Linked DNA regions of Homo sapiens: regions 1, 2 and 4 are each linked to region 3. The links come from fine-mapping of genetic effects on gene expression. A gene starts in region 3. Each other region holds a variant in brackets. All regions are shown on one strand. Distances are from middle to middle.

Region 1 (8,359 bases), 34 kb after region 3:
TTAACCAAATGATTCATTTACTAAATATGCAAGTCAGATAGAAATATGCTAGTCAGAAAGAACTGCTACAAAATAAGATTGAATTATGAGTTGCAGCTCTGATCCTAACAGACAAACAAAATAAGGCTGAAAATACGTACTAGAAAGAATTTGAATTCCTTCCGTGGTGGACTAGGGCAAAGATGGTGTGAATGCCAGTAACCCAGGCTCACGTCAGGATGGGGTGACAGAAGTCAGCTGGATGGGATCAAATTGTTACCCAGAAGGTCTGGAAACCAACGAGGTCCCTGGTGTAGTGAAGGAGAATGGGCTGGCATCAGATGTCAGAAGTGGGAACCAGAGGCTGGAACTGAGGTAACCATAAGCAGTCTTGGTAGGTAAATAAGTAGAGATTTCAGGAAATAAACTCTGAATAACACAGGTGTCCTGAAAGCCCATTCCTATTGGGGCTGACCACACAGTATTTTGGCTTAAAAGTACCATGCCAGGCAGCCTCCTGCGTTTTGCCTGTGTGTCTACAACATGCCCCTAGGGTTTCTCTAGCTGAGTTACAAGTTCTCACAAGTATTTCTTCAAGCCATATCCCTTCTAACACTGAATCCAAGTTTTGAAGATGACACTGATGTCAATACAAATCCAGAACTTTCTGTACCATGTATTCAAGCTCCTTATCTCAAATCCTAGGTATAGGGCTTCAAGCACAGGGCACAGGGCAGAGTTAGAAGGTATCCAATCTCAGGGGATGAAATAGGTCCTGAAGTTTAAGGCAGGCCAGGCACAGTGGCTCACACCTGTAATCCTAGCACTTTGGGAGGCTGAGGTGGGTGGATCACCTGAGGTCAGGAGTTTGAGACAAGCCTGGTCAACATGGTGAAACCCTGTCTCCACTAAAAATACAAAAATTAGCCAGGCATGGTGGCACACGCCTGTAATCCCTGCTACTTGGGAATCTGAGGCAGAAGAATCACTTGGACCCGGGACGGGGAGGTTACAGTGAGCCAAGATCGTGCCACTGTGCTCCAGCCTGGCTAACAGAACAAGACTCCGCCTCAAAAAAATAAAAATAAAAATAAAAAAGTTTAAGGTAAAAATAGGAGATGTGCATGTTACAGTGGAGGGTGGATCTCCCCCCAGGACTGATTCCCCTAACTGATCTTTGATGCCAGAAGATACCCTGTTAAGTCCTCCTGGATGGCCCAAAGTTGTTCCAGATATAGCCCAGTGGCTGGGAATTGGTAGTTTGTCAAGTTGCTAGGATGACAATCGCTATTTACTGTGAAAGGGTATATTCCAGGCAGCTGAGGGCAGGGAAAACAGTCAGTGATTATTGGCTTGTCTCTTTGCTCTGAACATCATCGGCAAGGTTTCACGAGTCTTAGCTCTTCCTGTACTTCTCCCCTACCATTAGTCATCATCAGTTTTACCCACCTAGACAGGTGCTTACTAGGGACAGGATGGTAGCTGAGCCTTTCGGAACAGGGTTAGCTTGGCAGCCACCTGATATCCTAGCGTACAATATAGGAAAGGTCTATAAGTGGGTTGTGGTCCCCTCACAGCTCCGGGGGCTTGGCATAGGGCTTGGATTAGTCAGAGTGAGGGGGAAAGTGTGGCCAGTTTTCCAACAGTGGTAGGCTGCAGCATTTCCTAGTAGAAGATGTGAGTGGGTATCTCAAACGAGGTATCCATGAACAAAACGGCCATGTGCTCCATGCCTCCCTTTCTGCTGCCAGGCCTATTCTACCTGGGTTAGGTCCTTCTCTAGGCTGGGTCCTGCCAGGCAGGGTAATTGGGTAGCAAGTTCCAGAATTGATTAAAAAGAATATTTGGATTTGAAATACCATTTTAACATTGGAATGTGAAAGACTTGTGGAATATGTGTCTAGATCACTAGGTTCTTAAATTTTTGGGATCACATATCTCTTTGAGAATGTGAAGAAAACCATAGGCCACTGTTAAGACTTATGCAGTGATGGAAATGTTCTATATTTGCACCATCCAATGCGATAGCCATGCATGGCTATCAATCACTTGAAATGTGGCTAGTGTGACTGAGAGTATTTAATCTTATTTAATTTTAATTGATTTAAATTGAAATAGACACACGTGGCTAGCAGCTATCATATTGAATGGCACAGCCATAGACTTTTCTCAGAAAAATACAAGATTTTGCATAGAATTTCATAGAGATTTGAAGCCCACTTATGGATTCTGGGTTAAAAAATAAGACCCAAACTTCTTGTAATTCTAAGACTACAACTAAGAGCTAATGTTTTTGATGACTTACTATGTGCCAGGCATTATACATCTATGCTAATTCATTTAATCATCATAATCTCTTTTACAGAGAAGGAAACTGAGGCACAAAGAGATTACCTAACTTGTCCAACATTACACAACAAACTGTGACTTGAACCCAGCTGTTCTGACTTCAGAGTTCATACTCTTACCCATGTTAGGTTGTTCCTTGTTAATTTAACATTTTCTGCAGTAGTTTAAAAAGATAAAAGAGACTATCCAAGTTGTAGAAATCGTCAATATGTGAACCAGTATTGCAGTTTTTAAAATAATTTACCTTTGAATGACTCACTTACAACAAGCATAATTTTTTAATTTGTAAAAATGTTAATGCAGCAGAGCTAGCATAACTACAAATGCATTTTATAAAATGTCAAAAAGTGAATGGAACAAAATTATATCCATAGACACACACACACACAAGGGTTCACAACTGCCGCATGGCACATGTAAATTAAAAATGTTCAAGTGTTGTTGTTGTTTTTTTTCTTAGAGACAAAGTCTCACTATGTTGCCCAGTCTGCTCTCGAACTCCTGGGCTCAAGCAATCCTCCCACCTCGGCCTCCCAAATGTTGGCAGTACAGGCGTGACCCACTGTGCCTGGCCACAAGGGTTTTGGGTAAAGACAAAAATGGGTAATTGTTCATACAATGTAAAACTGCCCACTGGTGAACAGTTTTCAATATGTGAAAAAATTATAACTTCAAGTCTTTGTTTCTCACCAAATGGCTGTCCTGGTAATTTGTTGTTTCAAATAATTCCTTTTCAATGAAATCTTTACTCCCAGATCAAAGTGGATAGGAAATGTTGCCAGCTTATCTTTAAGCTGGACAAACGAATCCTTGAATTTAATAAGATTTCAGGCACCTAAGTGCAGGATACTTAATCATAAAAAAGCTTCAGGGGACTCTCCTGGAACTGTGCCTACAGGGAAGCATCATTCCATAGCCAGCTCCGGGCTGGTAATCTGGCGTTGGAGGTACATACTAGTTGATGCACCTAGACTCATGCCTCTAGGGAAGGCAGTAAATGGCAGTCCTGGTAGTGCCCTAGGAGAGAAAATGACAGGACTCCAAATTTACTTTTAAAGGGGGCTATGAGGGATGGCCTATCTTTCTGTCTTCTCCATTACAGGTCCAAAAACTAGGCAGAGTTTTCAAAAACATTTCTAGGAAGGATAAAATTTGGAGAAGAGGATTTGTAAGCATAAAGTAATAACATCTTTCTTGGCTTCTGCCAGTTAAAGGCCACCATGATTTCCACTCTTGTTCCTCAGGGCCATGGAAATGGATCAGAGCAACAAAAAAATAGCTGCTGGAATCTTCACAGCCTTGTATAAAGACTGCATGTTCTCTGTGAACTGTTCCCTTCAACAAAGACATGGCAAACTCAGCGTGACTACTGTTT[A/G]TAAGTAATCCCCCATGCTGAGGGCTAGGCTGGATGAGGCTGGGTTGTTACAGGGGTCCCAGAAGCTCTCCTGTATTAGGTACAGACCAGGAAGTGGCTGGCTTAAGAGCACAGAGCTGGGATCAAACTTTATTAAAACACACTGGCCCACCCCACCAGGCATGTAGATTCTCAGAGCAAGCAAACAAGACATACTAAAACATACAAATGCATAACTCATTTTCCTGGTGTTTCAAATATTTATTTTAGGTAGTAAAGGCTTTTGTCGTTCTAAATCCTGATTACAAGTCACATGATCAAGAACAACTAATAAAGGAGATTCAGGAGCATGTTAAAAAAACTACAGCACCTTACAAATATCCCAGAAAGGTAGGCATCCTAATTATAACGAATATTTGCTCAGTGTTGTGGACAATTTCAAGTGTTTATTTTTACATTTTAATGAATATTTTCTTCACACATGCTGCACCACATGTCCCAAACTGAACTGATGACATATGGGTAAGAATCAGAATCTTTGAGATTAAAATGAAACCCTGAACCTATTTTGTTTGGTCCTTTGGCTTACTGGACTCACAGTAAATACTTAATATCAAGACAACTTTCCTAACAATACCCTTTTCCCTATTTTGGCTGTTACCCAAAACCCATTCCAAAGACTATTCTAATTCTTCCACCTAGAATTCATAATCAAACTGCTATATAATTGGCTTTATGTAAAGATAAAAATTTCCAGGCTAATTTTCTTCCCCTTGATGCCAACAGGTAGAATTTATTCAAGAGCTGCCAAAGACTATCAGTGGGAAGACAAAAAGAAATGAACTGAGGAAGAAAGAATGGAAGACAATTTAAAGTTGTTTCATTAATTACCATATCTATAAAACAAACATAGTATCTGTCAATCTCTAGAAACCACAAGATGATGGAGAGGTCATAAAAACTGTGGTAGTATGCTTAGAAACTGTTGATTTAAAATATCTTGTGGTTATGATATCAGAGGCTAAATTTTGAAATAAAATATTTGGCAAATTCCTCCACATTAGTGTCAATGTTCCTATCATTTCTTAATATAAAAATAATACCATCAATTGCTGATTAATTTTTAAATGTATAGTATAGAAGCAGTTTCTGAACCAGATCTCTGCTACATAGGTTTTCAAACTTTAGTTGACTAATTCTTCTGATATGTTGATATACAAATCAGAACCAATGTTCAAGCCTGAAATAAAACTAAAGAACTTATAAAAGTTTTTAGAAAAATATAAAATATCAGTTAGAAGATTATGATAATCTCAAAGTACAAGAATCTACCTGAAAATAGACTAGGGATTTTTATTAGTCACATTTTTTGCAAATAATTTAAAAATAGTTTAGACTTGTTTCAAGGTCTAACTATAAAAGAAGGATCATATACTATTGTTGCTTATTATATGTAATCTAATAAATACTGTTTACAAAAGATTACACTTGTGGTTCCTGAAGAAAGTATGGTAAATGCAGTAAACATTAATATATAAAATAAAAATAAAATAGTGTAAGATGTTATCAGAATACTCATGTTTGGAAATTCAAGGAACAATTAGGATTCATACATGAAAGGTTATCAATTCCTCATTGAAGGCCTGAGTCTCAAAGAATTTTTGGTGGAAATACTTAAATTTCTGTCACAAATATGGCTTGTTTCTGGAGAACTAAAAGTGAGTCCCCCTGTGGAATGAGATGGAACCATGCTGTTGGCTCTTTCCTTTTGAAGTGTTTGTTCCCATTTGAAATAACCACAACATTTTCTGTTTTCTTGGTATTTCCCGATAGGGCAACAATAGAAGACTTTTCCATGGTTCGGTCCATTATTAGAAACAACAAGTCTCTTAGATCTCCGACCACACTTGCATAATGGAGGTGTCATTTTCCCACTCTTCCATGGCTCTTGTAGGTTAACTGTAGAAGTTAATATAGATGGGAGACGCCTCCAGGAAGAACTTCTTACTGGGGAGCAATCAGATGATGTAGGCTTTTCTTCATGAATAGTGAAGGGTTGTTTTTTTGCTGGTGGGAAAGCTTGGGGACTGCATGGATTCCTTTTGGTACCACCTGAAAGAAGAGGATGTTTCCCCAAAACTAAAGGATGAGACATATTGGCATTAACTCTGTTGAAGGTACTTGATTTGTGTTCAGGTAACTTAAAGGCAGAAATATCTGAACCTGGATCTTTGGCTTCTTTTACATTATAAATAGTAGTGTGAGGACTCTTGTACACAATAGACTTAGAAGTCTCAGATTTTTGAGGAGTTTCCTCTATGTCTCCAAAGTTTTCATGACTTGACATTTCCAATTCTTTCAAAACCATTAATCTTTCTCCAGAATTAAATGAAATCTCTAAGTCTGAGTCACTAATGGGAACTGTACAGTCTACGTTTTCCTCAGGCTGAGATGCTGGCAGTAAAACCACATCCTCCCAATCAGCCAACACAGGTAAACAGTCCAGAGTAGAGCTCATTTCCAAATCAGAAACATGATGAACAGTTGGAACGGTGGTAGAAACAAGTACCAATTCTGAACCAACTGTTGAAGCCTTAGATTTGGTATTAAATGCAAGATGTTCATTTTTTCCTTGCTTTTGCATATAGATAGGTGAATTCAAGGTAGGAGACTGCAACTGCCCCACAGAAGTAGAGGACTTAGTATTAAAAAGAGGTAAGGAACTTTTGACATTGTGAAGACTTGCTTTTATATTGTTTTTTACTTGTAATTGATCCTGTTGTGCCTTTATAGGAGAATTTGCACAAATTGACTTCATTTGAACTTTTTCATGAGGATTTATTATATTTTTAGGCTCCTTATTATATATGCTGGGACCCTGGATGCTAATGTTACAGGCAGACATTTCTTCAACTTGAATTGTATTCAAATTTCTGGCCAGAATGCTGAAATTCTTCTTAGTGGGAACCTATGATTCCACAGACAAATGCAACAGCTTTAGAAACTGTGCATTCGTTAATTTCTTCAGTATACAGTTTTATGACAAAAAAGAGAAATGTCATTGATTTATAAATGACTGCACACATTAAATCTACGTTTCAAAGAACGTATGACTGTTTATGAAGTTTGAGATGACAGAATAAAAAGGCAAGACACTACTAACCTTGTTCAACGACCTTGTAATTTTCATTACACAACCATCTCTGATCATTTTCCAAGCAAGAAGGGCAGTATTCCGAGAATCGTCCAACCCTGAGGATACAGATATCAAACACTGAATTTAGTGGTACTAGTACTATTTCCTTAGTACTAAAGAAATAACTTAAAAAGAAAAACACCACTTGTGTAGAAATTGGAACACAGTTTTAGTTTTATGACCATCTACTAATTTTAATCATGATAAACTGGTCTTGGAAGTGGAAGGCTATGGCAGCATTACCAGTGAAAGACAAGCTCGTCCACATTTATAGAGGAGGATATGAAAATGTATTAGACAGTTCCCCAAAATGTGGCCAGCGTTCTGCAGGAACCAGGATTTGTGAATAATCTAATAGTCTTGTTCAGTTTTTTCACTAGTCCATTCTATTATTTGAGCACTTGTTTAATCTCCATTTGATTTGGCTCATTCTTTTCATTCTTCTTAGCAACTAGAAAGCCACTAGATGGCAGTGTATCTTACAATAGTTTATGAAAGTGGTAATTTGAAAGTCTTAGAAACAATGTGAATTGTTTAGATTAGGAGTTTTTTTTTTTTAGGCTGAAGATATCCCTTACTAATGACATTACCAAAAAATGAAATTCATATGAAGTATTTTTTAAAAGTCAAATGGCTTACATAATTTTTAATGTATACTAACCAGAATGTTCTCGTCCTGAGAATTCTATTCCTACTTCCTGCAAGGCACCACTTAGTCCTTTTGGTTTTCTCCTATAGAAAAGCTAACCAATAAAAAAAGATATATTTAAAAGAAGATTACTATTTTAAAGACTATGTATTAAACACTTTTCATAATTTTTAGTTCTATTAGATTTAGAATGTGCTTATTTTTTGTGTGTTGTTTTTAAATACTTTAAGAAATGCATTTATGTGACCAGTACAAAAGAAAGTATCTTCTTTGCAGAAACCCATGCCCATGTGTAGGATAAAAGTTAATCATTTTTCCATAGAAAAAAGTAAACATGCCCCCATTTTTTACCATTACCTTGTAAGTTGCTCTGAGATCAATCCAAGAATTTAAAAACACAGGTTTTAACAGCTGCTTTCTTTTACACTCATACTCCAGGCAAACCCCCAAGTCCCAGTCTGCATTAGGTACATTAAAATAGAACAAAGTCAATGATGCCAGCATTTTTTACTTATGCTGCCACCATTTACAAATAGAATGCTAGAAGATCATATAAAATAGAACAGTATGATTTCATTGCTCTGCTAATATCTAAAAATTATTCACTTTATATAACTTACTATTAACAAGTTAGGTTGATGACTAAATTTCAAAATGATTTCTTAAACACCCAGTAAAACCTTATTTCAGAAAGAAGAGTAACATGTTAAATTACAAGGACTATATTTTCTATATTCTAGGAAAATATTAATGTTATTGAGAAACCAAACATTTTATAGTAACTGGAAACCAAATATGACTATCAATGCTATCTTATCAATGACACAGTATT
Region 2 (8,359 bases), 88 kb before region 3:
TGTGTGTGGCATCTGGAATGTCTACTGTCTCTACCCACATTTCCTCCACATCTCCTATGAAGATGCTCTGGTAAAACCTAAATGTGCCTCCTTTGTCACTCTCAGGCCTCTGTCAGCAAACATTTAGGATTCCCAGCCTTCACCTCTCAGACCCTGAGAGGTCTGAACAAAAGAGAGTGGAAGGGAAAAGGAGTATGTAGTCACTTCTACTTCCAGTTCCTTTCCCAAGACACACACACACACACACACACACACACACACACACACAAACTTTGCCCACATCTGGGTCCAGCCTCTATGTCGGTGCCCTCTTTCCTACCTTCCTGGGAAGGAGGGTTGTAAGGCCAACCCATGGGAGTGTTTTGCCATCTTGGGGAAGCCTGTGGTCCCACTGGTGAAGAAGATGACCATTGGGTCCAAGGTCTTTGACTTAACACAGGTGTGTTCTGGGGATGCTGATCTGCAAAGGGGTTCAAGACAAAAGGAAAAAAGTCATGATTGCTGTTTCTTCATCTTCTGGGAATGCAAAAGAAACATAAGGCACGGACAGGAAACTGGGAGTTTGCAACACTAGAGGAAAACTGGCTCTCCCGGAGTTAGGCATCACACTGACTTGATGGGTGATTCGGACATGTGGACCAGCATTTTTTTATTTGAAAAATTAGTAAAATACAATGAATCTTAAGTCATTTAATCTTAAGTAATTTAAGTAATGAATCTTAAGTAATTTAATGAATTCATTAAGTAATCTAATGAACATTTGAATAGCACTTGCTATGTTCCAGGCAATGCTCTCAATGAGTTACAAATATGAACCATTCAGTACTCAGAGCAACCCTAGGAGATGAGTACTACTCTAATCATGCCCATTTTGCAGGTAAGGAAACTGAGACTCAGAGAGGTTAGGTAATTTGCTTGGTAATATACAGCTAGCAAATGGCAGAGCCAGGATTCAAACTCAGTCGGCATCCTAGTCTGTGCCCTTAACCAGACTGCTAAGCTTGTTTTTTAAAATTAAACTCTGTGACCTTGGTGATGAGGGGTGGGGAAGAGAAAGAGAGAAAGGGGGAGAGTAAAAAAAATATATTTAGTTGGGCATGCTGGTGGGCGCTTATACTCCCAGCTACTCGGGAGGCTGAGCCAGGAGATTAGTTGTGAACCTGGGAGGCTGAGCTTGCAGTGAGCCGAGATCAAACCACTACACTCCAGCCTGGGTGACAGAGCAAAACTCCATCTCAAAAAAAAAAAAAAAAAAAAAAAATATATATATATATATATATATATAAAAAACATATTTATATATTATATATCATATATTAAATTTATATATAAAATTATATATAAATATATAAAATATATACTTTTATGTCATATATAATATATACTTACATGTCATATATAAATATAATTATAGGATATATAATTTATATATAAGTATATATAATATATATCATATAGTATATATTGTATATAATTTATATATAAGTATATATATACATATACATGTATATGTAAGTATATGTAAGTTATATATAATATTTATGCTTATATATAAATTATGCTTATATATAAATTATGTACAAAATATGTATAATATATAATATATATTATATAATATATAAAAATATAAATATATAATATATGTAATATATAATATATAAATATAAATATATATAATATATAATAAATATAAATATATATAAAACATATTACATATAAATATATAAAAACATTTATATATTATATCTCATATATAAAATTTATATATAAAATTATACATAAATATATAAAATATATACTTATATGTCATATATTATATACACTTACATGTCATATATACATATAATTATATGATATATATACTTATATATAAATTATACTTATATATAAATTTGCATATTATATATATATTATATATAAAATTACTGCGATCAATGTACCTCTGCCCTAGCATGAGCTTGAGATGGCAGATAAGATCTGTGGTTCCCTCAGTCTCTCTTGTTTCTCAGGAGCTTCCCCTGGACTGAGAGGGCCTTGGGCCTACTACAATTGTAAATGCAAGGCTTCTATGGTGTTCAAAGCAACTGCAAATAATCCCAACACGAGAGGAAACACTAGGTCTGCTGGTCTTGCTGTGAAATGGTATCATACTGACTTTGGGAAATTCGAGGGATTTTTCAAGAGTACTCTGTTTTAATTAAATTCTCTGACATTAGACTACAGCATAAGATGTGACTTTGCTGTAATGTTTGCCTTTTGGGGTTGAAATAAAGAGCTTTAAAAACTCAAGTATTACTCCAAGAAAACAAACCCAGCATGGTTTGTGTGTATAATGTGAGACATGACTGAAGGCTTACAGAATCAGAGTTTTGGAGGCAGAAGGGGCCTTTCTTATCTCCAGCCTTCCTTCACTTTGCCCCCAGGTGTCTCTGAAGGCACCCAGTCCCTGGGAGATGGAAAGAGTTTGCTCCCAAAGCTACCTATAAGCCATAGTTGGCAATTCCATTTTTCTTGGGGTCTTAAGTTTTACCTTAAAAATTCATTTTAACCTTTCATTCAACTACTTCATATATTTTTAATAGAAAAATAAGACTTTAGGTTTCCCACCTACAAGGAATATGTAACACAATAACCCCCTGACTTTACAAATCTCCTTTGCACAGTCCCAGGGGTGAGTATATTTTAATGAGAGGAACATGGAAGGTTGACTTGCTGAAAAATGTGAAATTTTACAGATAAAGCAACTGAGATCAAGAGAGGGCAAGGAACTAGGTCAGGGTCACATAGCAAAACAGTGACATAAGTGAGGTTTCTGACAACTGACTTGATGACCTTCCTACCACTGGCTGCTTGTCTCTCACCACTTGGGAGTGAATGGCATTCTTCTACCTGTGGAACAGGAATTAAAAGAAATTAAAGAATGTGTAAGCAAAAACTCAGTTGTATGTAAGAAAACCCAGTTGCCCCAGAGGAAGAGAAAGAGGTGGAGTCCTTTAAAAATTAACTGCCTGTTTCTCTGTCTGTGGCTAGTGAGCCTTATCTCTCCCTTTCCCAGGCATTGTGAAGACCCTGTTTCTCTAGCTGTGCAGCTGCAAGGTCACTAGACAGATAAACCCAAGTTGCAAAACATGTTTTTCCTTGAAAAGTAAGAAATGATGTAATGCATGTCTCAATTGAATAACTGTCTTTGTTTCTCACTTCTGTAATATGCTTCCCCCTGAACAGATCTCTCCCTCCCCCCTCTCCACCCCCAAAATGCTTAAAAGGTAACCTGACTCTTTGTTCTGGGCTCAGTCCTTTGGATATTAATCTGACTGGGTTGGCTGGTGCACCTAAATAATACATATATCCTCCTCAACCCCATCGGTCTCTCTGATTCCTAAATCATCCCCAAACATTTCTGGTGGCCCATATGGGGATTGGAGATAACAGATTTACTGTCTCCTTTGCCCATGGGACTAGGGCCCTGGGGCTGTGGAAGACCTGGCATCCAAGGCATGCCATGGGGGAGTTTCACCCGGATGGAGACTGGCTCTCCCCGCATCCTGCCCAGCAGTGCAACTGAACCTGAGATGGGGCTGCAGGATGACACCAGCACTTCAGGAACCGCGGTAAGGAGAAAGGGCCCAAGGTAGGAAAGCCCATCCCATAGGGATGAAGGTGAGCTTGATCACCTCCCAGGGACCAACCACTCATCCAACCCAGAGTGGCTGGGGGTGGCAGGAGTGGCCCGCCAATTTGGATGAACCTCGTGTCCCCCTAACAAAGTGAAAGTGGTTCACTGGTGGAGAAAATGGGCCGATACAGCGGCAAGTGCAGCAAGGAAGAGTTTGCTGGCAGAATGGTAAGAGTGGCTTGCCACCCCAACTGGGAGTGTGTGGGTGTGTGCGGACCTACCCAGGACACCAGAGAGGTTCGTTTCCTCTGATGAAGAGTCCTGGGGTAGAAGTGGTGTGTGTATGTGTGTGAATGTGGGAATCTAACTAGGCTCACCCGGGACACGAGAGAGGGTTGTTTTGTCCGATGAGGAGTCCTGAGGCAAGGGAGGTGTGTGAAAGTGTGTGAAAGAGACGGTCTCAGGAGAGGCCAATGCGGGGAG[T/C]AATGTGGGGAGGCACAGATCCCTTAGCGCAGGCTGTGTGCTCCCAGGCGAGTGTGGGGGAAATCAGTCCTAGGATGTTGCATATGGCTGATAGGTTGAGCTTCACAGCTGCAGCAGTCTGTGGCAGGGAAAGGCACGTTCCTGGCTAAGCAGCGTCTGAAACTCCTGTAATAGGACCCAGTCTGGTGGACCTTAGAGTGAAAGTGCACCTCAAGGGAGGAAATGGGAGGAAAAGCATGGAAACCAACTCCTTTTGGAGTGCATGATAAAGAATTTTTAAAAAGGATTTAGAGCTGATTATGGGATGAAACTGGATGTTCAAAAGTTAAGGACATACTGTGAATTAGAATAGCCCTCTTTTAGTGATGGATGGCTGACCAATGGCACTATAGGTAAATTGGCTGTGTGTTTTAAGGTAGTGACTAGCCCTGGAAGACAGCCAGGGCATTCAGACCTAGTCTTTATATTGATTCATGGCTAAATGAATGCAGCCCTGCCTAGCAGTTTATTGTAGAACGTTCACAGCTCACACCCAGAGAAACCAGCTGCGCTGGCGGCTACGGAGTTAAAGGTAAAGTCACAGAGGCTTGTAGCACCAAAAGTGAAAAGTGAAAGCCAAAAGTAAAAGTAAAAATCAGCTGCCCTGGCAACTACGGAGACAAAAGAAAAGTCTCAGGAAAGAGAAAACCAGTTTTGCAAGAACCACAGGAGGGAATAGAGACCCCTCCTCCCTACATTCCAATCTACCTCCCTTTACCAAGGCTAACTGCCCCTAAGGAATTAAGTTCAAAGAGATACAGGCTCCCAGTCTCACCTGAGAAGGAGAAATTAGAGCTCCAGGAAGTTAAAGTGAAAGGCTGGAAAAGTCAGGGAGGGTGTCTCAGGTCTGGTCACGCCCAAGTTATGCTTATGCCTCTTAAGAGGACAAGAGGACACCCACTAGGACCCAGATGATGCAGTCCAGCTTCAGCACCTACAAAAGTGCCAAGAAGCCCTTCTGCAAAGGCTAAAGGCTGGTAAAAGAAAAAGGCAACCAATATAAAAAATCTCAGAGGTGCTCCAGGGTGCAGATAAAAGCACCAGCCAGTTTTAAGAAAGACTTTTTGAGGCATTTTGGTTGTACACTCTGTTTAACCCTAAGGCTGCTGAAAATCAGTGCATGGTGGACACAGCATTTGTAAGGCAGGCCCAAGGAGATATCAGGCACAAATTGCAGAAGTTAGAAGCTCCGTAGGTGTGAATGCAACTCAGCTTATTAAAGTGGTTACAAGGTGTACATTAACTGAGTTCAGGAGGCAGAGAAGAAAGCTGATCAGAGGCTTAACAAAGGCTAATTTACTAGCAGCAGCCCTTATGGGAAGAGAAGCTGGCTTTGCAAGGAGGCATGGTCGTGGGCGTGAACACAGTCATGGAAAAGGCTGGTTTGGACAGGAGTTTGAAAGCTGGCCAAGGCTAGAGAGAGATTAATGTGCACGGTGCAAAAGGAAATGACACTAGAAGAATAAATGCCCCAAAAAATAAATAAATAAAATAAGGAGAATGGTCAAGGCCATGGTATAAAAAAAAACCCTCCAGCCAAGGGCTACTGCACCCAGGAGAAACCCAAGACTCCCTGCACCTGCTGTGAAAGGCAGGACATAAAGTGTCAGAAAAAAGCTCAAATCTGCTCTAAAAGTCTCCAGTATTTAAGCCTTTATATAAGCCAAGAGGAAAGATGGCTTAGTAGTAAACAAAAGCAATCTGTTTGTGCACTTCCTACTCCAACCACCTGGTGTCAAATAAGAGAGTTCCTAAGGGCAGCAAGGTTCTGCTGCATTTAGATCCCAAATTTCTAGCTTATGGCTAAGCCACAAAGAGAAGGAAAGAAAGAGCCCCTCCTCTAGGAGGCTAACCAGGAGAAGACTTTTAAAGAAATTAAAAAAAAAAAAAAAGCCTTGACTCAGGCCCCAGCTTTAGGACTGCCAGATCTAACTAACTAAGCTTATCTTCTTGTATGCCCATAAGTGAAAGGGAGGCCATGAAGGTTCTAACTCAAGCCATAAGGTCATGGCATCACCCAGTGACATACTTATCCAGGCAATTAGATTCTGTGGCACTTCACTGGCCTCCTTGTTTTAAAGCAATAGCTGCCACTGCCCTACTGGCTCAATAAGCTAACAAACTAACTTTAGAGACTGTGAATACCCTAAACCCGGCTACCTTGCTCCTCATCAAGTCAGTACCAGGAGACCCCCTTCATTGCTGTGTAAATGTGATAGATGAAGTGTTCTCAAGCCAGAGAGATTTGACAGATAGGCCCCTTGGGGAGCCAGACATAGAATATTTTACTGATGGAAGCAGTTTCATACGAAAGGGAATCTGCTGAGCTGGGTATGCAGTGGTGACTTTGGACTCAGTAGTAGAGGTGCAGTCTTTGCCTACAGAAACTTCTGCTTAGAAAGCAGAGCTAATAGCTCTGACAAGAGCTCTCTGGCTAGCAAAAGACCAAAAGACAAATATTTACACAGATTCCAAATATGCTTCTGACACTTTCCATGTTCATGAGGCTATTTACAAAGAAAAAAAAGGCTTTTAACTGCTGAAAGTAAAGAAATAAAGTACAAGGAAGAAATTCTACAGCTCTTAAATGCTGTATAGGCCTTAAAAGATGTGGCAGAGATGCACTGCAAGGGGCACCATAAAGGAAGAATACTAAAGGCTAAAATAAATAAATAAATAAATAAATAAATAAATGAGACAAAGAGGCAAAGCAGGACAACCCCACCTTCTAAAGAAGAAGCCTTAGCTATGCCTCTCCTCCCAGAGATTCCCCTTCTGTAGATCCCAAGCTACACTCCAAATGAAAGGGCTTGTTTTGCCCAGAAAAATATCAACTACATTGAAGAAGGATAGTAAAAATTTTCCAGTGGGAGGCTAGCCATCCCTGAAACGGTGGCCCCCAGATTTGTAAAACAGTTCCACCAAGGAACTGACCTGAAAAAAAAACACACAAAAAAACAGCACTAAAGACATTATTAAGGCATCATTTCTATGTGCCATGGCTCACTGCTATTACTCAAGCCATTTGTAAATGAACAATATTTAACTTGTGTTCAGAACAATCCATGACAAGGGCTTACTCCACCCCCAGGAGTTCAGGAAACAGAAGCCATGCCATGTGAAAAACTGCTTATGAACTTCACCGAATTACCCTGTGATGGGGGCTATCAGTACATGTTGGTGTTCACCTTTTCAGGATAAGTCAAGGCCTTCCTCACCGGGACAGAGAAGGAACTAGAGGTGACCAAAGTGTTGTTAAAAGACATTATTCCCAGATTTGGACTGCCTCTAACTCTAAGATCTCACAATGGACCAACATTTGTGGCTGAAATAGTTCAGGACTTAACTTGACTATTAAAAATAAAATGGAAATAACATATAGCCTACAGACTGCAGAGCTCAGGTAAAGCGAAGAGCATGAACCAGACACTAAAACAACTGCTGAAGAAATTGTGTCAAGAAACTCATCAAAGGTAGGATCAGGTCTTGCCCATGGTCCTCCTCCAAGTCAGGTGCACCTCCACCAAGCAAACTGGGTATTCCCCCTCTGAGATTTTGTTCAGCCGGCCACCCCCCATCATCTGTAGACTAGAAGAAGTAACTTTAAGAAGGCAAATGCAGACTTTAAGTATGGCCATGCAAAAATGCATGGCTAGGTATAGAAAAATGCCTATAAGTCTAACAGACCCAGTACACCCTTTCAAACCTAAGGATTTTCTTTAAGTTAAAAAATGGAATCCAACCACTCTAGGACCCATACAGGATAGGCCTCATATTGTAATCATGTCTACTTCTACTGCTGTTAAAGTTGCAGGTGTCACACCTTGGATTCACCATAGCTGGCTGAAACTAGCAGCAGCAGTGACTCCCGACTATGACCAGTGGATTAACCAACAAGACCCTGATTGCCCCACCCGAATAGACCTACGGCGAATCCCAACCACCAGTAAGAAGGACAACTGCCCTGCTCTGACCACACTGGAGGCTGGTCAGTCTACACATGGCTGAAGCTTGAAGATCTTGCAAGCTCTGCTCTAGTCACATCCTGGAAGCTGACTAGTCTACACACAGCCGAAGCTAAGAGGACCATCTCTAGATAAGTAAATGTAGATAAAATTTATAAGCCTAGTTATAATTGTTCTGTTGTTACATTATTACTGCAAATGCTGCAAATGTCCATGCCCAGAGGAAGGTTTGCCATTCCTATGTGTAGTGTAAGCA
Region 3 (8,359 bases):
GAGCAGGTTGTTCAGTTTCCATGTAGTTGAGCGGTTTTGAGTGAGTTTCTTAATCCTGAGTTCTAGTTTGATTGCACTGTGGTCTGAGAGACAGTTTGTTATAATTTCTGTTCTTTTACATTTGCTGAAGAGAGCTTTTTTGTATGCTAGTGAGATGACTAGGGGTTAGGGGTTCAGGATGAGGGCTGGTTGCCAGGAGAACCAACCTTGTGATTAGAGGGTTAGAACTTTCTCTCCCACCCCACCACCACGCCACTTCCCATCCCCCTACCTCTTGGGAGGAAAGAAGGGCTGAAGGTTGAGTTAATTACCAATGACCAATGATTTAATCAGTCAGGCCTGTGTAATGAAGCCTCTAAGAAACCCAAAAGGGGCTGGGTGTGGTGGCTCACGCCTGTAATCCCAGCACTTTGGGAGGCTGAGGTGGGCGGATCATGAGGTCAGGAGATCGAGACCATCTTGGCTAACACACGGTGAAACCCCGTCTCTACTAAAAATACAAAAAAATTAGCCAAGTGTGGTGGTGGGCACCTGTAGTCCCAGCTACTCAGGAGGCTGAGGCAGGAGAATGGTGTAAACCTGGGAGGTGGAGCTTGCAGTGAGCCGAGATCACGCCACTGCACTCCAGCCTGGGTGACACAGCAAGACTCCATCTCAAAAAAAAAAAAAAAAAAAGGGCTGGGTTCAGGGAGCTTCTGGGTAGATGAGCATGAGGAAGTTCTAGGAGGGTAGAACATCTGGTGAGGACATGGAAGCTCTGTACCCCTTCTCCCACACCTCGCCCTATGCATCTCTTTAATCTGGCTGTTCATCTGTATCCTTTGTAATATCCTTTATAATAAATGGGTTGATGTAAGTGTTGCCCTTTGTTCTATGAATAGTTCTAGCAAATTAATTGAACTCAAGGAGAGGGGTTAGAAGTACAGATTACAACCTTGAATCTTATGACACTTGAAGTGGGGGGCAGTCTTGTGGGACTTGTAAATCAAAAATAAAATTCTAAGCCCCCAAACTGACTGAATTGACCCTCCTTTTGACCAAGAGGACCCAAGGAAATCTGAAAAATTAGGCCATGATGGAAAGCCAGTAGGGGCAGCTACAGGGGGTGGCGGGGACAGACATGCCTCATTATACTCTTCCCTTTTGGAGTTCAAGCACAACTGACCAACATTAACATTGAAACAGTGATCTTAAAACTGACAAAACAGACTCTTTGTAGCAATAAGATCCAAATTCTAAAATGACTCTAGTACAGCATCATATAACAGATAGCAGGCCCTGAAGAAAATCAAAGTCTTTTACCCCAAAATATATTTCTTTGACACATTTTGAAATGGCCCTGCAAAGCTGTCTCTTGTGGGGAAAAGCTGCATTCTGTAGGAAAATCTCCTTCCTTTGTTGCGGGACAATCAAAGACTGGAGAGACTGAAAAAGGTTCAGGAGAGTTTATTAAGGTGATCACAGGCTCAGCCAGACATACATCCAGAAAGTCTGAGCCCCAAACTAAAGGCTTTCCTACTTTTAAACATCTTAAGGCAGGAACCATGTGAGGCAGGAAGTAAGTTACGGAAGAGAGAAACAAAGGCAGTTAATCAAGCATTACAACATTTCTTACATCTTGAGAAAAACATGTCTTCCAACCTAAACTTATCGGTCTTGTGACCCTGAAGCCATGCTAGGGAGGTAAGCAGGAACTCACTGAGCCTGTAATAAACTTTGATGAATGTGGAGTTGGGGAATATAGATAAGGTCCACTGACCACAGAGAGAAGACAGGCTGTTAATATTCTCTTTTAACTTAAGTATAACTCAAGTTAAAGTTGCAGCAACTTTAAGAGGATTTAAAAATTTCTGTTACCACTACTATTAGGTTATAGTTGATTTCATTAATTCCTTCTTCATCTTTACTATGTATTTCCAGAGAGTGTGATACCTTTTAACGTCTAATAAGAGACATTCACAAGTGTTCTCTTTGAGGCCTGCTACCTGGAGGCTTCATCTACTTGAAAAGAACCTTGGCTTCCGCAACCCCCCACCCTTTACCTTAACTCAAGCTGATTTCAATTCTTCAGCCAGAGTTTAGCCCTTTCAACCAATTGCCAATCAGGAGATCTTTAAATCCACCTATTACCTGAAAGCCCAGCCTCTTCCTCCTTTGAGATGTCCCAACTTTCCAGGCTGAACCAATGTATACACATTTTTTTTTTTTTGAGACGGAGTCTCACTCTGTCGCCCAGGCTGGAGTGCCCAGGCTGGAGTGCAGTGGCATGATCTCAGCTCACTGCAACCTCCACCTCCCAGGTTTGAGCAATTTTTCTGCCTCAGCCTCCTCAGCATGTATTGATTTATGTCTTTGCCTATAACTTCTTTGTCCCTAAAATGTATCAAATCAAACTGTAACCCAATCACCTTGGGCACATGTTCTCAGGACCTCCTAAAGCTGTGTCATGGGTCATGATCCTTAACCATGGCAAAATAAACCTCTAAATTAATTGAGACCTGTCTCAGATACTTTTTAGTTTACAGATTGAGACCTTAACCTGTAGGATCTGACACTATTTCCAGGTAGACAGTGTTGAACTAAGTAGGACATGACACCCAAGCTGGTGTCCACTGGAGAATTGCTTGGTATAGTGAAAACCCCCCACACGTCTAGTGTCAGAAGTGTTATTGTTAGAGTAGGTAGTCAGGCAGATATGGGCAAGGCAGGAAAGGCAGGAATGTCAGGCGACAATCAGGTGATGGTCAGGCGGTTATTAAACTGTCACTCTAAAATAATTGGTTGCAGTAGGTGCCAGGGAAAGGCAGTCTCCTAAGAGATAGAAAACACCTAAAGCTGGTGATCAGCAGCTTTCCAATAAGATCTCAGGAACTGGGCAAGTGTGCTCAAGCATGCGTACTAAGAGGCAAAATGGCAGATTTTAACTGGTATACAACCTTCCTCTAGGAACACTTGACTGGTAAGGGAAAAACGCCTCAAATGAGAATGTGCACAACTTCAGTAAAGACATTGCACATGTGGCCCCTCCCAAGTGCTGACAGGCCACTGCACGTGCAGACAGCCCATGCCAAGGAAAAAATCAAAGGAGATACAAAACCTCGGAAGCATGCCAATGTATAAAACGCAAAGTCAAAAGTCAAACAGGGCACCTGGATCTCTCAAGTTGCCTGCTTGCCCCTCTTCCTTTGGTTCCTGCTCTAAAACTTTCTAATAAACTCTCACTCCTGCTCAAAAACTTGCCTCAGTCTCTCACTCTGCCTTATGCCTCTTGGATGAATTCTTTCCTTTGAAGAGGCAAGAATCAAGTTATTGTAGATCCGTATGGATTCACCACTGCTAACATTATGCTGAATGGTATGTGAGAGTAGAAAAAAAAACACTGTTTTTTCCCTGTCTCTAATAATGAGCTTAACATCAGAATAGAAATAATAGAAGAAAAAAATCAAAGAACTGGAAGCCAGAATTTACTCAACCTGAACAAAAGAAAGAAACTAGAATGGGAAAAAAAAGAAAAAAAAGAACAGAGCCTCAGGGACCTGTGAAACTATCATAAAAGATCTAACATGGGGGCTAAAAATTTACTCCAAGAAATAATAGCTGAAAAGTTCTCAAATTTGTCAAGAGACATAACTATAGAATTCAGCAATACAGAAAAAGAAATATACAACAGGACCAAGCAAGGTTTATTCCAGGGAGGCAAGGCTGGTTCAATATTAGAAGATCAGTGTAATCTATCTTATTAACAGGCTAAAGAAGAAAAACACCACATGCTTATAGTAACTGATGCAGAAAAAACACTTGCCAAAATTCAACACCTATTCATGATAAAAACACTCAGAAAAAAATAGAAATAGAGGAGAATTTCCTCAACTTGATAAAGGGCATCTACACAAAACCTACTACTAATATTGTACCTAACCATGAAAGACTGAATGTTTTCCCTCTAAGATCAAAAGCAAGGCAAGGATGTCTGCTCTCATCACTCTTATTCAACGTAGAGCTAGACACTCTAGCCTGCGCAATAAGGCAAGAAAAGGAAATAAAACGCATATAGATCTGAAAGAAAGAAGTAAGATCTGTTTACTTATTTACAGGTAATGTGATTACACAGAAAATCCCAAGGAATCAACAACAAAAGACTCCTAGAACTCAAAAGTGACCAACAAATTCCTCTTTAAGTAAAGTTGGGTCTCTCACATGTAATTGAAAGAGTCCTTTATTTATTCACATATCCATCAACTATTTATTGAATGCCTAAAATTTGCCAGTAGCTATTCCAGGCAATAGATACACCATCAAACAAAAAGAGTTCTTACCCTCAAGGGTGATAGTAAGAGATGTAAAAAGTTAAAAAATGGTAAAAGAGAAAAAATGAAGAGTGCTACTTTAGAAAATGAGGTAAGGGAAGAGTTATTTAATAAGACACCTCAGAAAATGAGGAATTTGGCCAGGGGGATATCTGAGGAAAGAGTTCCAGTCAGTGGAAACTGTGAATTCAGAAAGCCTGAGGCTGAAACAGGCAAGTGTGTTTGAGAAAAAGCAAGGAGGCCGGTGGCTGTGCAGAGTGAGGCAGAGGAAGGAGAATGGGCTGTGGATCAGAGGACCCTGTGCCAGATCATACAACTCCTTGCAGTTCATGTAAGGACTCGGATTTTACCTGGAGTGGAAAAAGAAGCACTGAAAGATTTGAGCAGGGGAGTAACCTGATAGCGTTTATGTTTAGTCCTGCCACTTCGACAGATAAACGCACCAATGGGCTTGATGAGATTTAGGCCAACCCATAACCGCCCCTCAACTTCTTTCCTTTCAATTTCAAAACTCCTCTATGGCTTCCTCCATCTGTTCTTCCTTCTGAGAAGTGCTCTCTCTGCCCCTTTACAGAACTAACCACTTCGGCAACTCCTTGGACACTTTCCTTCTTGTTAATAATTTGCTTTCTCCGCCCCTCAAAAGCTTGCTGTTTCTGTAAATCATTACCTGTAAGAGGAACCGCTGGGAGTCCTGTAAACTTTAGCCCAGAGCTTGGCTCCTCCTCCAGAATGTCTCCACCAATCAAGGAAAGTGTTTTGGGCCAGTCTTGCTCCTCCGGATTGTCAGACTGCTCCTCCCTCTTCTTTAGACTGCCACGAGGAAAAAGCAGATGTGAGAACTCAAGGTTCAGGGCTGCTCTTCTAAGAAACAAGTCTGCCATAATCTCCATCTGTGTTGGAATCTGTTAACTAGTGAGTACCTCATCTCCCCTCCTGTGTAAGATTTCCTGAACTGGCACATCTGTTTTTTGAGCAAAGATAACAAACAGATGAACAAAACCAACAATCAAAAATGCTGTCATTAAAGTCTTGGGCAGCCAAAGTTTCTCTCAGAATTTCTCAGTTGTGTGATACTATCTATTAAGTGATGAGGAGTATGCACACACAAAAGGCTATAAATGTAGCAGCTGAGTTTTCATGTTGAGCCTTTTGGTGCTATTTGATTTTTTGAAAAACTATGTACATGTATTAAGTTGATAAATTTTTTTTTTAATTTTAATTGAACCAGATGCGGTGGCTCAAGCCTGTAATCCCACCACTTTAGGAGGCTATGGTGGGCAGATGCAGATCACTTGAGGCCAGGAGTTCGAGACCAGCTTGGCCAACATGGTGAAACCCTATCTCTACTGAAAATAAAAAATTAGCCAGGTGTGGTGGCAGGTGCCTGTAACCCCAGCTACTTGGGAGCCTGAGGCAGTAGAGTCACTTGAACCTGGGAGGTGGAGTTTGCAGTAAGCTGAGATTGCATCACTGCACTCCAGCCTGGGTGACAGAACAAGACTCCATCTCAAAAAAAAGACCAGGTAGTGGCTGAGATTTTCATTGTACTGTCTGCTTAGCTCCCCACCTTGCTCAGTGACAGATGGGAATCCATCTTCTGCATCATCCAGAAAGTATGTAAATTACTTCCAGGAAACTTTGGGAAACACAGATGCAAACCTAAGAGCAGCCAGTTTTCTCCTTTAGGTGGTCAAGGGCAGCTGCAAAAGTTCTGTATAGGAGGGGCTTCAGGCAGGGTCTGGTTGGGTTTGGAGACAACAGCAGTGAATTTACCTTGCGTTGAGGCTGTATATGTTAAACTACTGTTATTACTTGGATACTTAGAGGGAGGGATGTTTAGGGAGCTGTGGGGAGGCTAAAGCCCCCTTGGCTGTAGGGACAAAGAGCTTGCATTTCAGATGAGACCTTAAATACTTTCAGAAGCCTATCTGACCAGGGGTGGTACTGTCTTTCTTAGAAGAGTTTTCCTTACCAATGTTTCTGTGGCTCAGTATAAAAATCTGGAGTCACCCTGGGAAAGTTATCTCAGCAATTTTACCTACAAATAATTTTATAAACCTGGGAAATAGAAGTTGTAAAATGCTAAGATCGATGAAAAGGGAGGAAAAGAACTTTGTTGAGGAGAAGGTAATCTTATGGTTTTGATGAAGAGGATGTCGATATTTGCTTTTTGGTAGAACAGAATGGTTAGGTTCATTTTAAGCTCCAAATGACTGATCAATTTTCTTTTCAACATACGTTTGAAGGATTCTGAATGTGGTGTAGAGTATTGTATGGGAGCTAGGGAACAAATCATACTAAACTCTGATTCTATTCAGAATCAGCAAGCTAAGTATGATATATTTATCTCCAATCATATTAATATTTACATAATTATTTAATGTCTTCCTTAATAGTCTATAAGCTTCATGGGAGCAAGACCAGCCGTGTCTTGTTCACAGCTATATTTTCAGCATTTAGTACAGGTCTGGCATATACCAAGTGTTCAATAAATACACGGGTAATGAATAAATGCGTTGTCCAATTTAAATATGTGTGTCTGTTTGTGTATACTTCCTTGTCTGTAAAATGAAAATACTAATAAATAACTGCAAAATGCTTAACAGTACAACCACTTGCCAGATCTCAGCAAAAATGTTACGTCCCTAGAGAGACCTCCTAAAAGGTCCCTTTTCTCCCATTACTCTCTTTGTTTTCTTGCGTAACATCACATTTATTTATTCCCTTGTTTACTATATGTGTCTTTCTATGAGAGCAAGGAGGACCTTGTCTCTTGCATTCCCTCCTGTATCCTCTATGTCTGAAATAATTCATGGCAAGTGATTAATAATTGTTGAATAAATAAATGAATCATGCCAACCTACCAAGAATGAAGCTCAAGACCTTAAGATATTTGTCCAAATTCCTGCCTTTTATTTAATAGAATCAGAAATTGTTTCTAATACTTCACAACCACTTAAAAATACTATTCATTTTTACATCCAAGTAATGAAAGAATCAGGACGTTCCTTTTGGAAGACATAGTTTCAACATTTTATCTAAATTGCAAAATTATACAAAAACTCAAGTGACCATTGATAGGGGACCGGTTTAAGAAATGACAGTGCAGTTCTTCACTAGAATGTCATACAACTGTTAAAAGAAAAAAATCAGAACAGGGCTGAGTGTGGTGGCTCCCACCTGTAATCCTAGTGCTTTGGGAGGCCGTGTGCGTGTTTGTGTATATTTCCTTGTCTGTAAAATGGAAATAATAATAAATAACTGCAAAGTGCTTAGCACAGGAGGATTGCTTGAGGTCAGGAGTTTGAGACCAGCCTGGGCAACATAGTGAGACCCCCATCTCTAAAAAATTTTTTAAAACACTTAGCTGGGTGTGGTGGCACACACCTGTAATTCCAGGTACTCTGGAGGCTGAGGCAGGAGGATCGCTTCATCCCAGAAGTTCAAGCTGCAGTGAGGGGTGGTCGTGCCACTACACTCCAGTCTGGGTGACAGAGTGAGATCCATCCTGTCTTTAGGCAGGGAAAAAAAGGAAAGAATAAATGAATAAATACTTCATTTAAAAAAATAGAATGAAGATCTCTGCGCACTGGTATGGAAAGCCCTTAAAAGGTACATTGTTAAAAATGTTTTTAGTGGGCAGAATAGTGTGTATTCTGTGCTACCTGTTGTGTAAAATTGGTGGAGAAATAAGAATCTATACTCATAATTTGCTTGAATGCACATAAAGAAACCCTGAAAAGATAAGTAGAAATAATAATAGTGGTTTCCTGGGAGTGAGAGCAAAGTGGGCAGCTTTGAGACTAGAGGTGGGAGGCAGATATTTTTTTTTCCCTCTGTACCTTTTACAGTTTTTTTGAGCCATTTGAAGATATTATGCGAAAAAAAATTAAAAACAGAGAGAGACAAGTAGTGTTGATTACTTAACTTCTTTCAGTTGAAGGAAACCTGATGCTAATTCTGTTAAGAGGAGAGCAGCCAAAAGCATAGGTTGTGACTTGCCAGCAAAAAACAGGGACCGGGGCCGGGCGCGGTGGCTCACGCCTGTA
Region 4 (8,000 bases), 190 kb after region 3:
TTCTTAATTAACTTGCTTTTGTTGTACTCTATAGACTCGCCCCGAATTCTTTCTTGTGCAAGATCCAAGAACCATCCCTTTGGGTCTGGATCTGGACCCCCTTCCGATAATAAAACTATGTACCCTTGAACTTGTCATCTGAAACCCCAGTTTCCTTATCTGTAAATAGAAAAACAAGTGTAGTTATGAAGTATAAACCAAAAGTAAAATCTTAAGACCCTCCAACCATCTGAATGGACTTCCTCCTTGTCCGGGGCACTCTAAAATTTAACCTGAAAGCCTGGTTCAGGCCATGACGGGAAGTGGGGGTCAGACATGCCTCATTATGCCCCTCCAGCATTACCATCAACACAGACCTTAAGTCTGATAAGAAACATTTACAATCTATTCTCTCTGAAGCCTGCTGCCTGGAGGTTTCATCTGCATGATAAAACTTGGGTCTGCACAACCTCTTATCATAACCCAGGCATTCCTTTCTATTGATAACTCTTTCAACCAATTGCCAATCAGAAAACGTTTAAATCTACCTATAACCTGCTGGCCTCCACTTCGAGTTTTCCCGTCTTTCTGGACTGAACCAATGGATATCCTAAATGTATTTGACTGATGCCTCGCGTCTCCCTAAAATGTATAAAATCAAGCCCTGACCACCTGGGGCACATGCTCTCAGGATCTCCTGAGGGCTGTGTCACGGGCCATGGTCACTCATATTTGGCTCAGTATAAATCTCTTCAAATATTTTACAGGGTAAGAAAGAGACTCTTTTCATCCACAGAAGGAATCAGGCCTTGGCATGTGACAGGTTGTGGTGTAATATACATATATATCTACTGGTTTTCATCCATGGTTCCTGGCTTCTAACTCCCCTAGCCCTTGTTACAGTCACCTGTTATAATGTTGGGTGTGTTAGGCCTTAGGGGCAGGCCGCAGGAAACAGAATCTCTCTGACCTTCTCTTTCCCTCCTTTTACCTGCCCCCAAGCAAGACTCAAATCTTCCCCTGCCTTTCTGATTGTGAGTCCTTTTTTTTTTTTTTTTTTTTTTTTTGAGACAGGGTCACTCTGTGGCCCAGGCTGGAGTGCAGTGGTGGGACCTTGGTTCACTGCAACCTATGCCTCCTGGGCTCAAGCGATCTTCCCACCTCCGCCTCCTGAGTAGTTGGGACTACAAGTGCATGCCATCACACCCGGCTAATTTTTGTATTTTTAGTAGAGACAGAATTTCACCACATTGGCCAGGCTGGTCTCAAACTCCTGACCCCAAGCCATCCACCAGCCTCAGCCTCCCAAAGTGCTGGGATTACAGGCATGAGCCACTGCACCTGACCTGATTGTGAGTCTTAAGACTCCACCTAGAGAGAGAGGGTGCTGCCCTATACTCTGGGGAATGTCATACAGCTTTCATAAAAACCCAAGAAGACTGGGTGCGGGGAGCTTCTGGATAGCTGACCACGTGGAGGTTCCTGGAGGGTATTTCACCCAGGGAGGGCATGGAAGTTCTCACTCCTTCCGCCATACTTCACCCTATGCATCTCTTCATCTATATCTTTTGTAATATTCCTTTAATAAACCAATAAACCTAAGTATTTCTCTGAGTTCTGTGAGCTGCTCCAGCAAATTAATTGAATTAATTTCAATTAAAGGGGGAGTGGTGAGAACCCCAACGTGAAGCTGGTTGGTCAGTTCTTGAGGCTGGGACTTGTGACTGGTGTCTGGGTTGGGGGAAAGAATTGGGGACTGAGCCCTCAACCCGTGGGATCTGACACTATCACCAGGTAGATGGTATTGGAATTGAATTAGAGGACACCCAGTTGGTGTCCACTGCTTAATGTGTGGGGAAGGGGTAACCTCCACACATTTGGTCACAGAAGTCTTCTTCTGTATTGATGGTGGTGGTGGTTGTGGTGAGACAGTAGTAGAAAAATACAATTTCAGAGTTTTTCTGTTCCACAGGTCATCAATAAAAGTAAGTGGTTTTTTTTGTTTGTTTGTTTGTTTTTTTGAGACAGTTTCACTGTCACTCAGGCTGGAGTGCAGTGGCATGGTCTCAGCTCACCACAACCTCCACCTCCCAGTTCAAGCAATTCCCCTGCCTCAGCCTCCCAAGTAGTTGGGATTACAGGCAGGCGCCACCACACCTGGTTAATTTTTATATTTTTAGAAGAGATGGGGTTTCACCATGTTGGTCAGGCTGGTCTCAAACTCCTGAGCTTAAGTGATCCACCCGCCTCAGCCTCCCAAAGTGCTGAGATTACAGGCGTGAGCCACAGCATCCAACCTGTAAGCTCTTTTCTATCCCTCAGATTGTTTTCATCTTCCTTTTGTCATTCCCTGCCCAGTTTTTCTGTTCCTCCCTTTTTGCCACCTTCTGAATCTTCGTCTTCAAGTAGCAATTTCCATCTTGCTCACTTCCAAGGCTCCATCTTAATCATCGTTCTCTCTCCTTCCTCCACCCAGATGGATCCTATATTTTGAAACACCTTGTCTACCAAATACCGACCCCCTCCTTAAACAGTAGCCATGTCTCTCTTGCAGGCTTTTGGGAATATTGGGAATAGCTTATGGATTCAATTCAGGAAGCCCAAGGTCACCCCTGGGATCCCTGGCTACACTGCAGCCCTGTAGCCATATAGAGATGACGGAGCCCTGTGGGGGAAAGAGGTAGGCCTCCCTGCCCACCCCTTACCTGGTAGGAGCCATGAGGAGGGATGTAGTAAGTGTCTCCAGGAGCGAGGGAGTAATAGTCCTCCTCAATTTCCTTACAGTAGAACATGGACAGAAGTGACAGCAGGAGACGCCGGTCTTTGTCATCAGTCACTCTGCCTCCGTAATTACATTCCCCTGGGGACAACCAACAGAAGGAGAGGTTGAGCCCAGGGAAGGTCATCACGAGCTTGGTGGTTGATGTAAAACACGGCATTCTTCCGGCCAAAGATCTCTGCTGGGACATAGTGATAGGGACAGCAAGCAGGAAAATTCCGGGCAGAAGATGGCGGGTCCCCTGCAAGGGCCCCACCCTCAAGCTGAAAAGCCTGAAACCATGGCCCAAAGTGAGAACTTACATCCCTGTTTTCCCACTTGAATGTTGCCTTTTCCAAAACCACCCATGACCTGCCCCACCCCCACAACCCATGCCCATCAAAACCCCAGGCTCAGCCAGCAGAGAGAGAGAAGCAGCTGGACATCAGAGAGAAGAGGCTTGACTTCAGGGGAACAGCCTTTTCAGCTCCCTTTCCCGCTGAGAGCCACTTTCTTCGGCAATAAAATCCCCCACATTTACCATCTTCCATTCGTTTGTGCGACCCCATTCCTCCTGGACACTGGACAAGAGCTTGGGTGCCATGAGTGCAAGTGCCAAAGTCTGTCACGCTGACCCACCACTGGGCGGTTAATACTTGAGCTGTCTGGACCGCAGAGCTACAAGAGTACTGTAAACCTTCCTCTGGGTGACAGAGGGAGACTGTCTCAAAAAAAAAAAAAAAAAAAAAGACCTGCACTCCAGCCTGGGCAACAAGAGCGAAACTTCGTCTCAAAAAATAAATAAATAAATAAATATAAATAAAAACAGAAACAAAAAAAAAGACATTTAAAGAGCGAGGGAGAGACCACATTCATATAACTTTTATTATAGCATATTGTAATTGTTCTATTTTATTACTGTTGTTGTTAATCTCTCGCTGTGCCTAATTTATAAATTAAACTTTATCATAGGTATGTATGTATAGGATAAAAAATAGTATATATGGGGTTCGGTAAAATCCGCAGTTTCAGGCATCCACTGGGGGTCTTGGAACATATCCCTGGTGGATAAAGAGGGACTAGTGTATATGTTGAGATGGTGGCAGTAACAGTGGTTGGAGCCTTTGCTAACTGTGCCCCTGATAGAGAATTACAACGAGCAAAGACTCTTGCTAATTCATGCTGGAAATGTAGAGTGGGCAAGAAATGGATCTATGATGTCTTTTATACCCTTGAGGTTTGAGGATTGTTTGTTATCTCAGCCTAACTAGCCTATCCTGACTGGAACAGTTGGAAGGTAACTACTCTCAAGCTGGCTGGTTTATGACCGGCAGGCAGTTGGTTTATGGCTTGCAGGCAGTTCTCTAAGCAGACCATATCCCAGGGCAATCATGCACTCATGCTATGGTCTGAAGAGGAACCCTAGGATGTGCTTCTGCATGACCTGGAACTGTGGGAATATGGTTCACTTCTATTTATTATTATTACTAGTTTTAGAGACGGGATCTTGCTGTTTTGCCCAGGCTGGTCTTGAATCCCTGGGTCCAAGTAATCCTTCGGCATCAGCCTCCTGAGTAGCTGGGACTATGGGTGCAAGCCACTGTGTCCAGCTCCAGGCGCACTTCTTTGGAGATGTTCTTTCACCAAACTGAGACCCACTGTATGCGTACTGTGTGTGTCATTTGGGGCTTTGTTTTAGGGAACACTCTACTGAGTTAAGGTCAATGTGACCTTCTGGCACTGAACTTAATCACTGTAAAGAACAGTCTTTCAACCTTGGCACTCTTAACATGTTGGACTGGATAGTTCTGTGTTGTGGGGACCACCTTGTACATCGTAGACTGTTCAGTAGCATCCCTAGCCTCCACTACTATAACTGCCAGTAGCACGCACTATGACATCCAAAACCATCTCCAGACATTGCCAAATAGCCACTGGGGGCTGAAATCACCCACAGTTAGAACCACTCCTTTAAGCCTCTGTCTTCCCAGCTGTAAAATGGGGTTATTAACATGGAGCTCATAAAATTAGCATGAAGACTCAATGCATTAATCACAGGTATACAGTGTCTGCCACGTGCCTGGGGAAGGGATTCTAACAAACTCCTTAACATATGGAGCTGAA[G/A]AGGAAATTGGGTGTGATCTTGATGCCCCGGTGTTTTAATTAAGCTGCATTTTGACCTTCAGCCATGATATTCCATTCATTTAGCACATGTCTATTCTTATTCCTGTCTCTGGGACTATACGGCACGTTCCTTGAAGTTAGTGGTCACGTTTTTTTGGTTGTATGTGTGTATGTTTTTTAAGAGATGGGGTCTTGCTCTGTCACCCAGGCTGGAGTGCAGTGGTGTGATCATAGCTCACTACAGCCTTGACATCCTGTGCTCATGCGATCCTCCTGCCTCAGCCTCCTGATTACCTGGGGCTACAGGTGCACAACACCATATCCAGCTCATTTTTATTTTATTTCTTTGTAGAGATGTGGCCCAGACTGGTCTCAGACTCCTGGGCTCAAGCAATCTTCCCACCTTGGCCTCCAAAAGTGCTGGGATTACAGACATGACCCACCGCACAGAGCCTATGATCAAGTTTTACACATTTACATTCTTCCATATTATGTACTTGTACATATCGTGGACTAATAAAAGGTTGCTGATTGATTGCTTTAATACAAAACAGCTAGTGCCATTTCTACCTCAGGATCACTTTGCTGGGAATGTTCTCCTTCCTCTATGCCCCACCCAGTCCATTCTTTTCCACTCATAAAACTCCTACTCACCCCCAAAACCCATCTCTTATGCCTTTAAGAAGTTTGCCACGATCATCTCCTCCTCCTACCCCAAGATTTAATCATTATGCTGCCCTTCTACTTATAAATGTTTCTCTTGTTGAACTTATTACTATGTTACCTTTTTTTTTTTTTCTTCTGAGACAGGATCTCGCTCTGTCACCCAGGCTGGAGTGGGGTGGCACGATCAGAGCTCACCGCACCTCCACATCCGGGGCTCAAGCAATCCTCCCACCTTAGTCCCCTGAGTAGCTAGGACTACAGGCATGTGTCACCACGCCTGGCTAATTTTTGTATTTTTTGTAGAGATGGGATTTTGCCCCAGCCGGTCTTAAACTTCTGGCCTCAAGTGATCCATCGCCTCGGTCTCCCAAAGTGCTGGGATTACAGGCATGATCCACTGCGCCTGGCCCGTATTTTTTTTTTTTTTTTTTTTTTTTGAGATAGAGTCTCTGTCACCCAGGCTAGAATGCAGTGGCGCAATTTCAGTTCACTGCAACCTCTGCCTCCCCACTTCATGCAATTCTCCTGTCTCAGCCTCCCAAGGAGTAGCTGGGACTACAGGCACTGGCCACCATGCCCGGCTAATTTTTTATATTTTTAGTAGAGACAGGTTTTCACCGTGTTACCCAGGATGGTCTCGATCTCCTGACCTCGTGATCCGCCTGCCTCAGCCTCCCAAAGTGCTGGGCTTACAGGCGTGAGCCACCACGCCTGGCCAATTTTTTAATTTTTAGTAGAGATGGGGTTTCAATATGTTGGTCGGGCTGGTCTCAAACTCTTGACCTCAGGTGATCCACCTGCCGTGGCCTTCCAAAGTGCTGAGATTACAGGCATGAGCCACTGTGCCCCGCTGGCCTGTATCATTTTTTAAAATATTTTTCTTCTTTTGGAGACTGTGAGTCACTCAAGGGTAAAGATTCTATCTTAATTTTTTTTGTTTGTTTGTTTCCTTACAATATCTAGCATGATGACCAGCATTAGTAAGAGCTCGATGTTTATGGTGAGGGAGGGAGGGAGTACATAAGTGAATGGAAATGGGAGGAGAACAGCAGGAGGGTGGAACATGATACTGGAGGTTTACAGTGGAAAAACTCCTCCCGTAAATACCTGTCAGGTAGGTCAGAGCATCAAAGGGCACCTCCTTGTAGTCATTGAGAAACATCTGGATCTGCCACATACTAATCCTCAGGTCAGATTCGTTGAATTCATAGGGAATATTCCACCCTGCGTGTGGGAGAGCAGAGAGAGGCTTCAGTGCTGAGAGCTCTTAATTTCCACTCAAAGACCAAGCCGAGGGAGTTAAGCATCATTATGGATCAAAAGCCTCTTTCAGGCTCATGAATATCAAGCACCGAGGCCAACTATTAGCCTGGACGTTTACCACCAACATGGGAGCCATTCTGCCTGAGAAAACATCCATTCTAAAATCAATTTCCTTATATACCTCCCCATTTGTTAAGGAAGATGTTAATGTCCTGGGATTTGTGGAATGAGAATTATTCAGCCTGGCAGGAATATGGCGGTAATGCACGGAGCTCCAAAAATAACACCGCGGCATGGCTAGACAGCAGGAGCTACGACTGGGCAACAGAGCCACGTTGGTTCTGAGAATTCCCCTCCTCGAGCTCACGGGAAAAACTGAATGGCCAGCCTTAAAGAAATGACCACTCGTATTTCCAAGGGTGTAATGATAAATGCCCATTGGGGGCTGAACAAGTGACATACATGTGTAAACCAGGCATGGTGCAGGATACAAGAAAGAGTATGGGGAAACCTGTGCTCAATAGGGAAGTTTTTTGTTTGTTTTGCTTTTGTTTGTTTTGTTTTTTTGTTTGTTGTTTTTTTTTTTTGGAGACAGAGTCTCGCTCTGTCCCACAAGCTGGAATGCAGTGTCGTGATCTCGGCTGACTGCAACCTCCACCTCCTGGGTTCAAGAGATTCTCCTGTCTCAGCCTCCTGAGTGGCTGGGATTACAGGCACGTGCCACCACGCCCAGCTAGTTTACGTAGTTTTAGTAGAGACGGGGATTCGCCATGTTGGCCAGGCTGGTCTTGAACTCCTGATCGCAAGTGATCCGCCTGCCTCGGCCTCCCAAAGTGCTGGGATTACAGGTGTGAACCATCGCGCCCAGGTTCAATAGAGAAGTTTAATTTCCTCCCAAACACTCGCTTTCAAATTATAACAAAATAATAAAATTCGTGTGCCAGCAAACGAAGCATGACTGGCAGTTAGTTGCAAGCCAAACATTTGCATGGCTTTTTTTTTTTGAGAGACTGGATCTCGTTCTTTTGCCCAGTCTAGAGTGGTATGATCTCCCTTCACTGCAGCCTCGAACTCCCAGGCTCAAGTGATCCTCCCACCTCAGCCTCCCAAGTAGCTGGGACTACAGGCTTGTGCTACTATGTCAGGCTATTTTATTTATTTTAATTTTTTTTTTGAGACAATGTCTTACTTTGTCATCCAGTTTGGAGTG

Evidence for each region.
Region 1: its variant is fine-mapped to the expression of ACSM3 in whole blood (INTERVAL, PIP above 0.99). The same link has a PIP of 0.9 or more in nasal epithelium.
Region 2: its variant is fine-mapped to the expression of ACSM3 in whole blood (TOPMed, PIP above 0.99).
Region 4: its variant is fine-mapped to the expression of ACSM3 in T cells (TOPMed, PIP 0.93).

The regions. Positions count from the first base shown.
Region 1 is chr16:20,792,418-20,800,776 of GRCh38, forward strand. It overlaps ACSM3 (acyl-CoA synthetase medium chain family member 3), which reads left to right. Exons shown (of 14, transcript NM_005622.4): 13 at 3,953-4,072; 14 at 4,469-5,164. The coding sequence ends at 4,555. ERI2 (ERI1 exoribonuclease family member 2) reads right to left here. Exons shown (of 9, transcript NM_001142725.2): 6 at 7,885-7,985; 7 at 7,540-7,621; 8 at 6,846-6,934; 9 at 3,923-6,650. The coding sequence ends at 5,307. Among named protein-coding and RNA genes, the nearest start is that of ERI2, 9.9 kb to the right of the region's middle. The variant A/G (reference allele first, on the strand shown) is at 3,704.
Region 2 is chr16:20,671,212-20,679,570 of GRCh38, forward strand. ACSM1 (acyl-CoA synthetase medium chain family member 1) reads right to left here. Exons shown (of 14, transcript NM_001318890.3): 5 at 320-460. It also overlaps a transcript of ACSM3 not described here. Among named protein-coding and RNA genes, the nearest start is that of ACSM1, 22 kb to the right of the region's middle. The variant T/C (reference allele first, on the strand shown) is at 4,100.
Region 3 is chr16:20,758,904-20,767,262 of GRCh38, forward strand. ACSM3 (acyl-CoA synthetase medium chain family member 3) reads left to right here and starts at 5,111. Exons shown (of 14, transcript NM_005622.4): 1 at 5,111-5,222. RefSeq lists an enhancer at 5,248-5,377.
Region 4 is chr16:20,945,799-20,953,798 of GRCh38, forward strand. DNAH3 (dynein axonemal heavy chain 3) reads right to left here. Exons shown (of 62, transcript NM_001347886.2): 56 at 6,635-6,751; 57 at 2,685-2,839. Among named protein-coding and RNA genes, the nearest start is that of LYRM1, 49 kb to the left of the region's middle. The variant G/A (reference allele first, on the strand shown) is at 4,862.